Regions from separate parts of the Homo sapiens genome. Here region 2 is linked to region 1. The links come from fine-mapping of genetic effects on gene expression. A gene starts in region 1. The other region holds a variant in brackets. All regions are shown on one strand. Distances are from middle to middle. Region 1 holds the start of CDC42EP4 (CDC42 effector protein 4). Region 2 overlaps CDC42EP4 (CDC42 effector protein 4).

Region 1 (8,323 bases):
TTGTCCCGGAGGTGTGCTTAATAGATATGGATGATAATTGGGAAAAGGAAAACAGATTACTAACAGCTAGCCCTAAGAAAACCGAAATACTTCATTTAAAATGGAAGGAAAGAGATGGGGAGAGGGAGATGTCTCAGAGAAAATAAGAAACGTTTTTTTTTTGTTTTTGTTTTTAACTTAAGCTATGATTTCAGGAGAAAGAGGTCCTGGAACGCCAGGAACCAGGGAGGACTTCCACCTGGAAGCAATGTGGTAGAAGGAGACCCACTGAGGGCCTGCATATGCCCAGCAAATGGCCAGGTGCCTTTGTTTGTTTGTTTGTTTGTTTTTTGAGACAGGGTCTCCCTCTGTTACCCAGGCTAGAATGCAGTGGCATGATCTTGGCTTACTGCAGCCTCAACCTGCAGGCTCAAGTGGATTCTCCCATCTCAGCCTCCCAAATAGCTGGGACTACAGGCATGCACCACCACACCTTGCTGATTTTTGTATACTTTTGTAGAGATGGGGTTTCGCCAGGTTGCCAGGTTTCTCTTGAACTCCTGGGCTCAAGCGATCCACTGGCTTCAGCCTCCCAAAGCAGTGGGATTACAGGCATGAGCCACCGCGCCCAGCCTAAGTGATCTCTTTTAATATTCACCCCAATAGGGGAAGGTAGAGATTGCTGTTCTCACTTTACAGATGGGGAAGCTGGTGGATAACTTGTCAGCTCATAAATGGCAGAGCTAGAATTCCAATCCAGAGGCGTCTCCAAACCTCTATCCAGCGAGCCTTACCCACAGTCCTGTTGCAGCTCCTACTTCTTTTGAGGACACCTTTGGCACTAGGTCATGATGACAGCAATCACCTCCATTCTGGTTGCTTTCTAGTCATAAAGCGCTTTCACACCTGATATCTCATTCCTCTTTACACCCTCCAGACGAGGCTAGCAGAGGGGTCCTGTGCTCTTTGGACACATAAGGACAGCCAGGCTAGCTAAGGGTCAGAGGTGGGAATTAGCGACTTCCCCATGTGAAAGGGAATAGAATCTCGGGACCCCAAATTCACTATGTCAAAGGGAAAGTTTAATCCCAGCACTTTTGGAGGTTGAGGTGGGTGGATTGCTTGAGCTCAGGAGTTTGAGACCAGCCTGGGCAACATGACAGAACCCTGTCTCTACAAAAGAAAAAGTACAAAATATGTAGCTGGGCATGGTGGCGCACACCTGTAGTCTCAGCTACTCAGGAGGGTGAGGTGGGAGGATCGCTTGAGCCCAGGAGGCCAAGGCTATAGTGAGCTACGATTGCAGCACTGCACTCCAGCCTGGGCAACAGAGCAAGACCCTGTCTCCAAAAAAAAAAAAGGGGCGGGGCTGGGGGGGACGTTAAGCTTGGAAACCACAGAAGCTGCTTTCCTTTTGTTCCCAGATAGCTGCAGTTTCACAACCCTGTTGACACAGGGTTTCCTTTGCTCCCCTTAGACGTACTGAGTAGGAGACAATGCATCATTGACTTTTTCTTCTATTCCCTTTCACATGTAAAATGTAGACTTACAGACACTAAATCAGAGCCTCACACGCTTGTGACCTCAATGCCTTTCCTCCCTCTCTCCCTCTTCTTTTCCTTTCCTGCTTGCTTTTTCTCTTTTAAATACAGAAGTTCCCAAAACCTTTTTGGAAAAAAGGTGATTTTTCCCCGGTGGATCCTCAACCTTGGCTAACTAAACCTCTATTTGATTGAGATCTGCCTTAGTCACTTTTTGGTTTACATCCATGATAACCCCGCCAGGGTTTGAATCCACAGTGTCTGCCTCCCAAGTGGCTCCAAACCCTACCTTTCCCTCCAGATGTCCAGTTCAGAATTTGATTTTACTTATTATTCATTTATTTTTTTTTTTGAGATGGAGTCTACCTCTGTCACCCAGGCTAGAGTGCAATAGCGCGATCTCGGCTCACTGCAACCTCCACCTCCCAGGTTCAAGCGATTGTCCCGCCTCAGCCTCCTGGGTAGCTGGGATTACAGGCGCCCACCACCATGCCCGACTAATTTTTGTATTTTTGGTAGAGATGGGGTTTCGCCATGTTGGCCAGGCTGGTCTCAAACTTCTGACCTCAAGTGACCCCCCACCTGCCTTGGCCTCCCAAAATGCTAGGATTACAGGCATGAGCCACTGCGCCCAGCCCAGAACTTAATTTTCACAGCAGGATGGAGTGGCCAAACCATTAGCTCTCAAGAGCTGGTTGCTGTCGCACTGCAGAGGGAAACGGAAATGTGCTGTCCCCAGAAAGCAGAATGTTCCTGAGGGCTTAGGGACCTCGCAGCCATGGGGAAAGTCTGGGGCCTTCACCCTCACTTCCTTTAAAAACCGAGGGTGGGGTTCAGCTAGAGGCAAGGGAACTTTTCACTTTGCGCCTTGTCCACTTTAGTTGACTACTTCGCAGCTGGCATTCTACCTTGATAATGATCATTTCAACTGAAACTATTCCTCTAAAAAGAATAGAGTCCAAGGCCTGGGACTTGGATTCAGGCTCTGGGACTCAGGAGTTGATCCTCCTTGACGTTCACCTGGTGCAAATTTAGCCTCAGCTGATACTTAGGAGGCAAAGGCACAGACGGGGATGCGGGGAGCTCAAGGGCTGTCACCCTGTAGAAACATTTCTGACGCCCAGTCCAAGCCTGGCCTCGGGGCTGGCCGGCTCCTCCCCGCTCCCTCGTTTACAGCGAGAGTCTGGGATGGCACCCACGAAGCTGGTGGCGCCAGCCCTCCTGCCCCATCTCCCGACAGTACTGCAGCCAGGTGGTTAGCAGGTCCGGGAGGGAGCAGGAACGAGGAACGCCACCCGGGCTGGAGTTCTTGGTTTCTTGCCCCGGCTCGAATGGGGAAGAGCCTCAAAAGAGCCTCGCGCCAGGCCCCCGGAGGGAGACGCGCCCCTGGCCCTGGGGGCCCCAGTGGGGGTTCGCGGCCGGAGCGCAGGCTGGGGCGGGAGTGTCTCCCGGAAGCCGGGCGGGCCCAGGCTGCCCCATACGGAGTTGGGAAAGTCTCAGGCTTTCAGTTTGAACCGAGGAGGCCGAGCAGTCGGGCAGAGGTTCCCGACGGCCATTGGCTGCTGCGGCGCCGTGACATCAGCGCAGAGGGGTGCGCGGGGAGGGTTGCGCGGGGCGGGCGCGGGCGGAGCCTGGAAGGGGAGTGTCCTGGAGGCTCCCAGCCCTGAAAGCCCGAGAGCCAGAGGGAAACAAACGCCGGCGCTGACAGGGGCCGCCAGCCCCTCCGCCGCGCGGAGCCCACGAAGGGGACAGCGCAGCCGGCCCAGAGCTCGGGTCTCCGGGGACCGAGGTAGGCGACGGGCAACCGCCTCTGTCTGTGGTAGCCGCCTTCGCGCTGGGTGCCCTGGGTGGGCTTGGGGGTCTCGAGTCCCCCTGTGGGGCAGAGAGGATCGAAGCTGGGGATGCGAGGCCGCGGCGCGGGGAGAAGGGCGCGGAGCCCCCACTTCTCGGCGCTCGCGCTTTTCACCGCGCCCACCGCGGTGCCTGGGACCCTAAGCTGCGCACCTAGTGTCCTGGCAGAGCGGGATGTGTGGAGGAGGAGGTGGCAGGGAGCCGGGCGCAGCGTTGCCGGGACTCCATTTCCTCTCTCCACGCTGGAACTCCCGGCCCTGGCCAAGGGTGCCGCTGAGGGGGTTGGGGGCCGGTTTTAAAGGGCCTCCCCCTTCCCAGGAATGGGGTGTGTGTCGGTGTGGGCAGGAGCGCAGCAATCGGCGGCGCGCGGCCCGCGATCTCCGCGAGGGGGGCGTGTGTGCGCCCGGAGTTCTCCATGAATAAGAACCGAATTCTCCGCCTGTACGGGCAGAGGCGTGTACACATCTCGCTCTCGTACACACACTGCAGCACACGCCACCCAATGTCACCCGGCCGGGAAGCCAGAGGGAAGGAGCTGTCTGGAAGGGAATGGCCGAAGGAACAAATGGTCCTCCTTTCCCCTACTCCCGCCCCGCGAACCCTTCCCTCCCCCGCCAGGCTCCCGCCCCGCCCGCTCCCTCGGAAGCCCGGGAGGCCGAGGCGCCTCCTGGCGGGGTGCGGGGGGAGGGCAGTCGAGCCACCCGCCCCCTTGGAGCCGGGGAGACGGCCGCTCCTGGGCTAGTGCGCCCCGAGCTCAGCGCGCTCAGCGGGATCGCAGGCGGGAGCGGTCGGTTAATGATTTAATCGCCCGCTTGGGGCGGGTGCGCGCGGATCGGCCGTCCCTGGCCCCGCCCCCTCTCCGGAGCGCCCCCAGCCGGGGTTACAAAACTGCCCCCTGCCCCCGGCGCGTCCCCCAGGAGCCATCCTGCCCGCGGGGATCCCGTCAGCCGGTGAGTGCCCCGGCCGGGAGGGCTGGAGAGCTGGGCGGGAGCCGGGGCTGAGGCTGAGCCAGCTTCCTGGGAGAGGACTGAAGTGCGTGTGTGTGTGTGTGTGTGTGTGTGTGTGTGTGTGTGTGTGTGTGTGTGTGACTGGGGGAGGGGTGCTCGCTGCTAACTCAAACCAGGTTCCCTGTGTTTTCCCAGTGACTGCGGCCTCGGCTTTGGAAGTTTTCTTTTTCTCCCTGGGAGAATGGAGGGGAAATACAATGCCTTTTCTTTTCTCGTTGCCTCTGGAACTTCTCTCTCTCCACGACTCCCACCCCTTGCAATCTGACCGGCTCCCACATCCCTTACTGTGTGCCCGGTGCCCACTGTTTGCCCAGATAGCTGAGCAGCTGGATCCGGGTGGAGTCCTTGGGAGCCCCCGTCGCTGCGAAGCCCCCTGCCCTCCCCTGAGGGTCCAGGGTGCTGGAGGGAAAATCTCTCTCTCGTCCGAACCCCAGCAGCCATCTGTACCAGAGAAATGTCCCATCCAGCGAGTGTAAATAATGAGGGGCCGGTGACAGGGGCCTCCTGCAAGGCGACTTCTTTGGCAGTCTGGGTTTCCAATAACTCCCTCAGCCCCCGCCCGCTTCTGAGGCTAGGGTGGAGGAGGGACCACCAGCAGGGTGGACTGAATTTTAAGAGAACAAAGAACAGGCCACAAAGGAAGGGATTGCTGAGCTGCGGATTTCTGATTTCTCCCAGAAATCGGGAGTTGGCTGGGACTGAGCCAGGCCCTAAGAGAGCCCCTGGCAGCCCCAGGGGCTCCTGGGGCAATAACAGGGCATCCACCAGGATCTCCTGAGGCTCTATCTCTGCTGAGAAGCCAGTGCCTACTGAATGCGGGGGTGCCCTGCCGGTTCCTGCTCTCATCAACTGCCCTGTGTGAGCTGCACATGTGACTGACTGATTAGTGGGGTGGCTTATCTCCTCTGAACTTGGACTTTGCCTCTCCACTCCTTGAAGACAGCTGCTCCTTCCCACAAGGGGTGTTCAGTGAATTTGGGGAGATCCCAAGTGGATTCCCAGGCATCCTGGTGGACCCCTGCAGGGACTAGGAGGGGCCCGCTGTGATCATATGGGCGGTGGTTCTGGGGTGAGTCTCAGCGCCTCCCCTCTGAAATCTCCCTGAAGTCCTAGGGTCCCTGCACACAGAGGGCAGCTTGCTCCTGCTCTGCTGTACAGCCTAGGCCTGTGCTGTGAATGATTCTCCATTTTCTGGGGTTTCTGCCTCTCTCTTTTTGGATTCCTCTTCTCTTTTCCCCTCGTTTCTCTCTTTCCCTTGCCCACCCACCGTGCTTGTCCCCATCCTCTGTACCCTGCCTCCACTGTGCTGCTGCCTCTGGAACCCGACAGCACCTCACAGAACCAGAGACCAAGGAGTCAGAAGCAAAGGGAGGTCTCATGTATAAAGGTCAGGGGAGTGAGTGTTGACCTGGGAGAGGAATCTTACACCAGTCTTTTGATTTTAAAAATAATTTTTATTTTATTTATTAATTTTTTGAGACCAGGTCTTGCTCTGTCACCCAGGTTGTGGTGCAGCGTCATAGTCAAGGCTCACTGCAGGCTGGACCTCCTGGGCTCAAGCTATCCTCCCACTTCAGCCTCCTGAGTAGCTGGGACTACTGGCGCCCACCACCACGCCCAGCCATTTTTTGTATTTTTTGTAGAGGTGGGGTTTCACCATGTTGCCCAGGCTGGTCTTGAACTCCTGAGCTCAAGGGATCTTCCCCCACCTCGGCCTCTCAAAGTGCTGGGCATACAGGTATGAGCCACTGCACCTGGCCAACCCTTTTTTTTTTTTTTTTTTTTGGAGACAGAGCTTTGCTCTGTTGCCCAGGCTGGAGTGCAGTGGCACAATCTTGGCTCACTGCATCCTCCACCTCCCGGGTTCAAGCAATTCTCCTGCCTCAGCCTCTGCAGTAGCTGGGATTATAGGTGCATGCCACCACGCCCGGCTAATTTTTTTTTGTATTTTAGTAGAAACAGGGTTTCACTGTGTTGCCCAGGCCGGTCGCGAACTCCTGAACTCAGGCAATCCACCCACCTCGGCCTCCCCAAGAGCCGGGATTACAGGCGTAAACCACTGCACCCAGCCCTGGCCAACCCTTCTTAACAAGTCCAGAGCTTTTCCAGAAGGGCCTTGGGTTGGCAGTGGCCCAGGGCTTCCACCCCTTTGGAGTGACTGATTGATTTCTGCGGCCCGGACTGTCTGTGCGCAGGTGTGGCCAAAAGGTGTTTGATGTTGGCCTCTCCCTTTCACTCTCCCCCACCCCACGCCCCTACGTTTGGATTGGGTTCGAAGTGAAGAAGTCAGAAGTCAGAGTGGTCAGGGTTGCACTTGGTTAGCAGTAAGTCCAGCCTTCTGTGTTCTCATTCTGGTTCTGCAGACTCAGAGGAGTTTGTCCCTGTGGGGGGAGGGAGGAGTCCGTCCCTTGGAGGAATGGGGAGCTGGGTTGATGCCAGAGATAAGGCCTGTGGGCGGAGGGAGAAGGGTTGAGCAATCTCGCCCTGGAAACAGAGCTGACCTGAGCTCTGCGTAGCTCTTCTGACCTACGTACTGGAGGATTTTTCCCGACCGTGAGGAAAAGAACCAAATTCTGGAGCTGGGGACACTTTGAGGGGTCATCCGGCAGAGTGTCCTGAAGGCCAACTCCAGCCAGTGCTTCTGGGGTGCTCTAGGAAGGCCAAGCCCATGCGTGCCCTCTCTCGGCAGGGAACTGGATGGTAGTGCTGGAAGGAGCCCGCATGTGGCACTGGACACAGCCCTTTTTGCTTGAGTGCGTTGGGAAGGAAATTCAGACATTAGGGCCGGGCACAGTGGCTCACGCCTGTAATCTCAGCACTTGGGGAGGCCAAGGCGGGCAGATCACTTGAGGTCAGGAGTTTGAGATCAGCCTGGCCAATATGGTGAAACCCCGTCTCTACTAAAAATACAAAAATTAGCCGGGCATGGTGGCGTGCACCTATAATCCCAGCTACTGGGGAAGCTGAGACACAAGAATCGCTTGAACCCAAGAGGTGGAGGTTGCTGTACTCCAGCATGGGCGATAGAGTGAGACTCCATCTCAAAAAAAAAAAAAAAAAAAAGAGAGAAATTCAGGGCCAGGCGTGGTGGCTCACACCTGTAATCCCAGCACTTTGGGAGGCCAAGGCGGGTGGATCAGGAGGTCAGGAGATCGAGACCATCCTGACTAACACAGTGAAACCCTGTCTCTACTAAAAAGTACAAAAAATTAGCTAGGCTTGGTGGTGGGCGCCTGTAGTCCCAGCTACTTGGGAGGCTGAGGCAGGAGAATGGTGTGAACCCGGGAGGCGGAGCTTGCAGTGAGCCGAGATCGCGCCACTGCATTCTAGCCTGGGTGACAGAGCGAGACTCCGTCTAAAAAAAAAAAAAAAAAAAGAAAGAAAGAAAAATTCAGACATTAGTCTCCCACATTCCCGCTCACCGTGCCCCGAAAGCTCCAGCTTAAAATACGCCTTCTTGAGGAGACTTGGGCTTCCTTCCAACTAACTTACATTGGAGTCTCCCCCAGGCACTGCCAGCTTGCAGCTCTGGGCTCTGTGCCAGGATGGCAGTGCTGGCATCCAAAGCCCTCCCTTGCCAGGAACAGGGGAACTGGCTGTCTCCACTCAAGCTGAGGAAGGGTCTCTCTTTTGGGATTCAGGTGAGCACAGTTTAGGGTGTGGTCATTAATGAAGGCTTACAGTTCCCCACCTGTAAGAAACTGCTCTGCACACCTGGTGTTTCCCCTTCACCCCAAAGATGGAGCTGAAGGCATCTGGAAAAACCACAGTGCCAGGCAAGAAGGATCCCTGGATGTCTGTGCTCAGCCAGAGCTGCTTCAGCCACCATCTTCTGCCTTGGCCATCACGGTAGCAGAGGTTGTCTGGGGCAGCCTCCACCTCCCAGCATGAGACTCTGGGTTCTTCTTTTGCCCAGACACCTGCAGTTCTGGCAGTCACTGAACT
Region 2 (8,323 bases), 19 kb after region 1:
TTAGGCTGTCTGTCTCCAGTCTTTTTTTTTTTTTTTTTTTGAGATGGAGTCTCCCTCTGTTGCCCAGGCTGGAGTGCAATGGCGTGATCTCGGCTCACTGCAACCTCTGCCTCCCAGGTTCAAGCCATTCTCCTGCCTCAGCCTCCTGAGTAGCTGGGATTACAGGCGCACACCACCAGGCCCAGCTAATTTTATTTTTTTATGTATTTTTTAATTTTTTTTTTTTTTGTATTTTTAGTAGAGACAGGGTTTCGCCATATTGGTCAGGCTGGTCTCAAACTCCTGACGTCGTGGTCCACCCGCCTCGGCCTCCCAAAGTGCTGGGATTACAGGCGTGAGCCACTGCGACTAGCCTGTCTCCAGTCTTTCGCTATTATGAATAAGGCTTCAACAAATACGTGTGTGACTTTTTTCGCCTTTGAAATAGTTCCACAGGGTTAAGTTCTAGGAGGTAAATCATATTCATTTAAATCACATTCATTTTAAAGCCATTATTTGAGGAAACTGAATCATATTCATTTTAAAACCATCATTCTTTTTTTTTTTTTTTTGGAGATGGAGTTTCACTCTTGTCGCCTGGGCTGGAGTGCAATGGCATGATCTCAGTGTGCTGCAACCTCTGCCTCCCAGGTTCAAGCAGTTCTCCTGCCTCAGCCTCCCTAGTAGCTGGGATTACAGGCACCCGCCACCATGCCTGGCTAATTTCTTTGTATTATTAGTTGAGATGGGGTTTCACCATGTTGGCCAGGCTGGTCTCAAACTCCTGACCTCAGGTGATCCACCTACCTCAGCCTCCCAAAGTGCTGGGATTACAGGCATGAGCCACCACACCTGGCCAAAACCATCATTTATTTTAAAGCCATTATTTGAAGAAATTTTGCTGGAGTTTCATGTACCGCAAGACCACCCCACCCTGGGACCATTTTGACTCTGAGCAGCTCTTGGATCAGAGTTTTGTAATGTTCCCCCTGCCTGGTGGCACCTAGTACCAATTGCTCAGTGGGAGGAAGGTCCTTCCCTCTTCTCTTTCCCAGCTCTTAATTTGGGCAAGATGGTAGCAAACATCAGAAGGTTGTCCTAGTGCCTGGCGGTGAGCCCATTGAGGTGTTATCTGGGGAAGATCTTTGGGGTGGGAGTCAAGAGACTTGGGCTCCAGCACCGCCCGGCTCCCTTGTGAGTTCTGTGGCCTTTGGCAAGTCACCTCTCCTGGTCCCAACAGCCTAATCAAGACCACTGGGTTGGATCCTCTCCCAGATGTCTACCATCTCTCAATCTCAGTGGGAGTCATGTGACACAGTGGGTGCTGCATTTTAGCACCCCAAGGAGTACATAAGAAAATCCACTGGGGCCAGGCGCAATGGCTCAAGCCTGTAATCCCAGCACTTTGGGAGGCCGAGGCAGGTGGATCCCCTGAGGTCAGGAGTTTGAGACCAACTTGGCCAACATGGTGGAACCCCGTCTCTACTAAAAAAAATACAAAAATTAGCCGGGTGTGGTAGCAGGTGCCTGTAATCCCAGCTACTCAGGAGGCTAAGGCAGGAGAATTGCCTGAATCTGGGAGGTGGAGGTACAGTGAGCCAAGAGTGCACCATTACATTCCAGCATGGGCAACAAGAGCGAAACTCTGTCTCAAAAAAAAGAAAGAAAAAGAAAATCCACTGGGATTTAGAAAGAACACACCAAAACTTGTGCACATGCGTGTGTGTGTGTGGTGTGTGTGTGTAAACTAAAACTTACTAATGCGTGGAATGACAATAGACATGAATATAACCTATAAAAATATATATGTGTGTAGATATATACACATATATGTATATACACAAATTACATATTCAGTGTTTGTCCTGTGATGCCCCCTACTTTTGATAGTACATTGCTGTTTAAGTGAATGGAGCCCTGGGGTGGGAATTAAACTCTGGCTTCAATCCATGACCTAGGGCAAGTCCCTTAATTTGGTCTTTCCATCTTGAAAGTATGATCCCTCCACACCCAGGTATTTTAAGGAGATATTTGACACAGATACATAAATGGTACAGGAGTCCTGATGGTGACATTTCATGTTCCCATCCTGGGTTTGTTTTTTTGTTTCTTTGTTTGTTTTTTTTTGAGACAGAATCTTGCTCTGTCACCCAGGCTGGAATGCAGTGGCGCGATCTCAGCTCACTGCAACCTCCACCTCCTGGGTTCAAGCGATTCTCCCTGCCTCAGCCTCCTGAATAACTGGGACTACAGGTGCACACCACCATGCCTGGCTGATTTCTGTGTTTTTAGTGGAGATGGGGTTTCACCATGTTGGCCAGGCTGGTCTCGAACTCCTGACCTCAGGAGATCCACCCGCCTCAGCCTCCCAAAGTGCTGGGATTACAGGTGTGAGCCACCACGCCCGGCCTTGTGTTTGGTTTTTGATTGTGGTTACTTAGGCTCAGAATATTACAGCAGTGAGCCTTAACCTCCTTGCGCACGCAGCACACTTCCAGATGCAAGGGCTTTTGAGCAGGGCACATGAAGGAGTTAAAAGATCCCCAAGAATACTAAAGTCAGCTAAAATCACAACACAGTCGGCATTGAAGTCCTGCCTGGAACATGTAACCACGTGTATCTAAGCGGTCACTGTTCTCGCCCATTCACTTAGCTGCCCTCAGCCCTGCCACAGTTTGAATGAAACACAGTCTTCCGCCTTCCCTGTGCTTTCCTATCTTTGCAGGGTAAGGCTGGTGAGTGTTCCAGAAAGTACTGGATTTTTCTCTGGTGACTAAAGCCAGAGTCCCTCACCTCTTAGAGTTGTGGCCCATGTCCCAGTGAGCCTCTTGCACAACCCCCTCCAGCGTGCTGTTCCATCTGACAAGCCTTGTGTAGCAGAATGCCACCTGTGTTTCGGCAAAGTGAAGTTCCGCCTAGGGGTAGGATGTCAGCCCCTCCTGTGAGAAGGGGCCGTGGCCTGCCAGGCAAAACCTGGGAAAGGATGGCCAGGACCAGAGGCTGCCCCTGGAAGGCCTGGAGTCCCATTTGATCCTGTCTTTTCTCTCCTCCCTGGTCTGGGCCCTCCACAATCCCGGGTGTCTCTACCTCCAAAACATGGCCTAAATGTCTCCCACTGTGTCCCCCTTCGCCAGACCCACATCCTGGTCTCCATCCTCTTTGACCTGCATTTCTGCAACAGCCTCCTGACTGAATTCCAGCTCCCCTCCTTCATTCCTCCAATGCCAGGACCTCCGGGAGCTTCCAGATACACAGATTGAATCACTCGCCTGCTTACAAACAGCCGCCGGTTTCCTTGTACACCTATAATGACCTCCAAACTCCTTACCTGGGCTGGGTGCGGTGGCTCATGCCTGTAATGCCAGAACTTTGGGAGGCCAAGGCGGGTGGATTGCTTGATGCCAGGAGTTCGAGACCAGCCTGGCCGACGTGGTGAAACCCCATCTCTAAAAACATAAAAAAATCGGCCAGGAGCAGTGGCTCCTGTAATCCCAGCACTTTGGGAGGCCGAGGCGGGCAGATCACCTGAAGTCAGGAGTTCAGGACCAGCCTAGCCAACATGGTGAAACCTGGTCTCTCCAAAAAATTCAAAAATTAACTGGGCATGATGGCAGGTGCCTGTAATAAAAACTAAAAACAAAACAGAACTCTTTATGTGGCCTGGTAGGGAGGGCTCTATGTAACCTGGGCCCTGGCTGCATGGATTTTTATTCTATTCCATAAATGCCACAAGCCTGTTCCTATACCCCGGCGTTTGCACGCGCCGTTCCCTCTGCCTGGGTCGCTTCTGACCCGGCTGGTTCCTTCTCATCATTTGGTTCTCAACTCATGATGCTCCTTCCTCAAGAGGGGCCTCCCCCAGACCCCCTGACTCCCACACCCACTCATACCACCCCTTTCCCTCCTTATACTGAGGAATATGAGATACCATTTATTTTATTTATAGGTTTACACCTCCATTCCCCACCCCCACCCCCCACACTCACACTACACACGTGCCCTGGGAAAACAGCGTGCTATTTTCACTGCTCTATCTCCAGGGCCTAGAAGAGTTTGTGAATATCAGTGGGTCTGCAGGAAGTCATGGAGTGAGTGACTGGATGATGAGTAATGGAACAAAGCCTCTTGTAGCCGATCCAGGTCACAACTAAAGTCATCGTGCACTAAAAGCCCTCTGCTATTCGGCCACATTGCCTGGACCTGGCATCGGGTGGTTGGTTAGAACAGCTAGGGGAAGGCCCTGCAGAGGGCATGCTGCCCAGCAGCAGTGGCGGAGGCAGTGGCAGTGGGCATTGAGGCATGTTGTGTACCCTGTATACCGGGGTGAACCGCAGGGCAGCTTCAGAGAGCGAGGCCTGCCTAGCTGCCCCATGAGAGCTCAGGTCTGGCGCCTGCCTCAAGCCAAGCTGCCAGGGACAGGCCACTGCCCGGTCACTTGGAGTGAGAAGTGTTGGTCCCGTCTGTCCTTCTGCTCTGGGTCTGCTGGGCTGGCCAAGCTGGGAGGGCCAGGGAGGATAGGCGAGGGGTCCAGGCAAGGGTGGTCTTCCGTAGTCTCAGGAACAGGGCTGAACTAAAGGTGTGGTTGCTGTGACCCAAGCAGGGGCCTGACCTTCTGGGGAGGGCTCCTCGTTCCCACCTTAAAGGAAGGTTCCGTGGTCAGTGGGCTGAGGGTAGAGGAATCTGTTCCTCCGGAGGCTCAGGAGAGCTAGGGAGGGCTGTGAGCTGTGATCCATTTTCCCTCTCCCTGCCAAGAAAGTGGGATGTGGTTTCTGGGGTGGGGTGGGGGTGTCCCGCCCAAGGCAGGCTATGGGGAGTGCCTGCCCCACGTTGGGCAGCCTATTTTAGCCACTTCCCCAGAGCTGAGTCACCATGCTTCTGAAAGCCCCGCCCAAAGCCACAATGCCCTGTGGCCTCCCAAACCATAGCTGCCCCCAGGACCTGCCCAGGCCTCTGGCGAGACTCCCACCACCTACTTTCTCTTAAACTCTATGATCCAGCTC[G/A]TCACCTCCAAACTGTTCTCTGTTAGAAGCTCAGAGTGACTCAAGGTCACTCAAGGCTGGTGAAACCAAGCTGTTGCTGACCCTCAATCCTGCTGGGTGGCCTGTCTAGTCTGAGCTCCAGACACCCAGGCCTCATCCCCAGTGTGGACTGCCAGGTACTGCAGCCCCCTCCTCGCTGGGGCAGTGGGACAGATGCGTGACTCCCTCTAGGCCCCAACTCTCTCAGGACCCTTCCTTGCTGGTTATTGAAGATGGCTTTCTACAAGCCACAAAGTCTCGTTCCCAACCCCCCAGGAAGCGAGACCGTGGCAGCAGGCAGCACTGGGTAGACCTGTCCCTGTCTTTCTGGGGTGTGGGGTTGAACAAGATCCTGGGGACCCCAGGGCTAGCCCAGGATGGCCGTGATTTCAGCTGAGTTTCCCTGCTGTCCCCTCTGACCTACCTCAATAGTTCTACCCGCAAGGATGTGCTGGGTGGTGTGGCTAATGGGATGCGGGGAGCTGTCCTCCCCTGTAGCCATCATGGCCAGGATATTTGGTCCCTTTGGGCAGCCACAGTGACCTGCAGCTTCTCTGGTGAGTCCTGGGGAGCCGGGTCTGTGGTTTCCCTTTCTTTCCTCTCTAATGAGCGTATAAGATCGGGAAACCACAGGACCTGACATCACTCACAGGGTCTGGGGGTTCCTGCCTTGGCGTTGAAACCCTTAACGCAGCTCTGGGGGCTCGTGCCGCCATGTTCTCACCCGGTTCTGACCATCCACACCCGCCTCCCTGCTTCTCTGTCTTTGTTGTTTACCTGGTGAGCATACCTGCTCTATCTTCACCTGTGTGTTCTCACTCAAGGCTGCTGTTTCTCAACTGGGGCAGTTTTGCCTCCTGGGGGACATTGGGCAATATCTTGAGACAGTTTTGCTTGTTGTGACTGGGGGGTGGATGCTACTGGCATCTAATGGGTAGAGACCAGGGATGCTGCTGAATATCCTACAGTGCACAGGGCAGGTCCACCTCCCGATGAGAAATTATCTGGCCCAAATAGCAACAGTGTGGAACCTGCTCTAGGATTACACAAGAACCTTCTTGAAGCAGCTGTTGGGTACCCCCTTCTCTGTACCCTGCCGGCCAGCAGTGGGGAGGAGCACTCAGTGGTCGGTGGTCACTGACCAGCAATGCCGCCGCCAGAGCTGGAGAAGGGCCTGGAGTGGAGCGGAGAGAGCTCTGGACTCAAAGACCCAGTTTCTAGCCCAGCTCTGTTGCTTTGGGCTAAAAACCTGGATAAATCACTTTCCTTCAATAAACTTGTTTCCTCATCCATAAAGTGAAAGTGCTGCACTGAATATCCCCTCCAGTTCTTTGAGATTCCTGGATGCTGTGCGTAGAGCCAGGAGTCGGGGTGCAGGCAGGTGGAAGATGGGGTCCCCTCCGTTCCTGACTGGTGTCCCTGCTGGTGGCAGTAGAAGCCTGAAGGATTTGCCAGGAACGAGAGTTCGTTTGAAGCTTGGCCTTTTTCCCTTCTATGCCCAACGTGACTGAGGCAGAGTCTACCTTCTCTTTTTCTTTTTCTTTTCTTCTGCTGCTTCTTTTTCTCTTTCTTTCCTTCCTTGCTTTTCTTTTCCTTTCTTCCTTTCTTCTCTTCCTTTCCTTTCCTTCTTTCCTTTCTTTTTCTTTCTCTCTTTCTTTTTTTCTTTCCTTATTTCCTTTCCTTCCTTCCTTTCCTTCCCCTCCCTTCCTCCCTCCCTTCCTCCCTCCCTCCCTTCCTCCCTTCCTGTTTTCTTCAGAGTTTTGCCTAGGAGCCCATGGCTGGCCAAGAGGGTCATATATGATATTCAGGAGTCAGCAAACTACAGTCCATGGGCCAAACCCAGCCTGCGTTTGCTTTTGTAAATAAAGATGTGGCTTTTTGGTGGTTTTTTTTCTTTTACTGGTTTATTACAAAAGATACGACTCAGGAACAGCCAAACGGAAGAGCTGCATGAGGATGCGTGGGGTCAAGTGTTGGGGTGGGGGGCAGGGCACGCACCACCTTCCTGGCACCTCGATCTGCTCACCAACCCAGAAGTTGTCTGTAAATAAAATGTTATTGGAACATAGCCATGCCTACTTGTTTACATGTTGCTATGGCTCCTTTCTTTCTTTTTTTGATTTTGTGTAGAGATGGGGTCTCACCGTGTTGCCCAGGCTGGTCTGGAACTCCTGGGCTCAACTGATCCTCCTGCCGTAGCCTCCCAGAGTGCTGGGATTACAGTTGTGACCCACTGTGCCCGGCCAACGGCTAGTTTTATACTAAGAAGACAGTTGAGTAGCTGTGACAAAAACCCTATCAGCCACAAGGCCGAGAATATTTACTCTCTGGCCCTTTGCAAAAAGTGTTTGCTGACCTTTGGTCTAGCGGTTCAATGTCTAATTGTTTAGAGGTTGAGGTGGGGCAGGAGGGTGGGGCCCAGAGATAATCCAAGTTAGAGTTAGGGGAAGGTCACTTTCCTAAGGGTAGGGAGGAGAGAGAGCTGACCTATGACCCAGAGTAGAGTATCATCTCAAGGCATCCCTCACGTCCTCGCCCACGTCACTGTGTGGCAAGTCTGCCAGGTGCCTGGCTCCCCCTCCCTGCCCGAGAGAACTTTGTGTTTGCTGGAATGATAAGCGGTATGGCGTGGGCACTGGGAGGGGGGACATTGCTGGTGGGGGAAGCCATGAGGCTGGGCAGCAGAGGCTTGAGAGAACAGGGAAGCGGATGGGGGTGAGGATGCAGAGAGGTCAGGCTGGGAGCCCTGGAGCCAGGCTGTGGGCAGAAGGGGAGGAGAGGAGGGAGGTGCTGGACTTCCAGTGGGTGCTTGGAGGCGGTTGGAGGCGGACCATGTGTCACACCCTGCTGGACCAGACTCGGTGGTAAACAGACCTGTTAAAACCCTCTGGATGGACCAGGCGCGGTGGCTCACGCTGATCCCACGTCCTGATCCCAGCACTGGGAGGCCGAGGTGGGTGGATCACCTGAGGTCAGGAGTTCGAGACCAGCCTGACCAACATGGTGAAACTCCATCTCTATCTCTACTAAAATTACAAAAAAAAAAAAAAAATAGCTGGACGTGGTGGTGTGCACCTGTAAATCTCAGCTACTCAGGAGACTGAGGCAAGAGAATCGCTAGAACCCGGGAGGCAGAAGTTGCAGTGAGCCAAGATCATGCCATTACACTCCGGCCTGGGGGACAGGGCGAGAATCTGCCTCAAAACCCTAGAAGTTTGTACTGCAGTGGGAAGATGAGAGTCCAGCCAGCAGGGACAGAATAATGTAGCCAGTATCTGCTGGAAGAGGGGACATCTCCCAAAGTGCCGTGGGGGGCAGGTGGTGGC

What was found.
Region 2: its variant is fine-mapped to the expression of CDC42EP4 in whole blood (TOPMed, PIP above 0.99).

What each region holds. Positions count from the first base shown.
Region 1 is chr17:73,306,879-73,315,201 of GRCh38, reverse strand. CDC42EP4 (CDC42 effector protein 4) reads left to right here and starts at 3,201. Exons shown (of 2, transcript NM_012121.5): 1 at 3,201-3,309. RefSeq lists silencers at 2,823-2,982, 3,053-3,312, 3,763-4,312, 4,323-4,452.
Region 2 is chr17:73,288,135-73,296,457 of GRCh38, reverse strand. All of the region lies in intron 1 of CDC42EP4 (CDC42 effector protein 4), which reads left to right. Among named protein-coding and RNA genes, the nearest start is that of CDC42EP4, 20 kb to the left of the region's middle. RefSeq lists enhancers at 4,473-4,542, 3,809-4,690, 4,674-4,968, 4,943-5,022, 5,313-5,532. The variant G/A (reference allele first, on the strand shown) is at 4,980.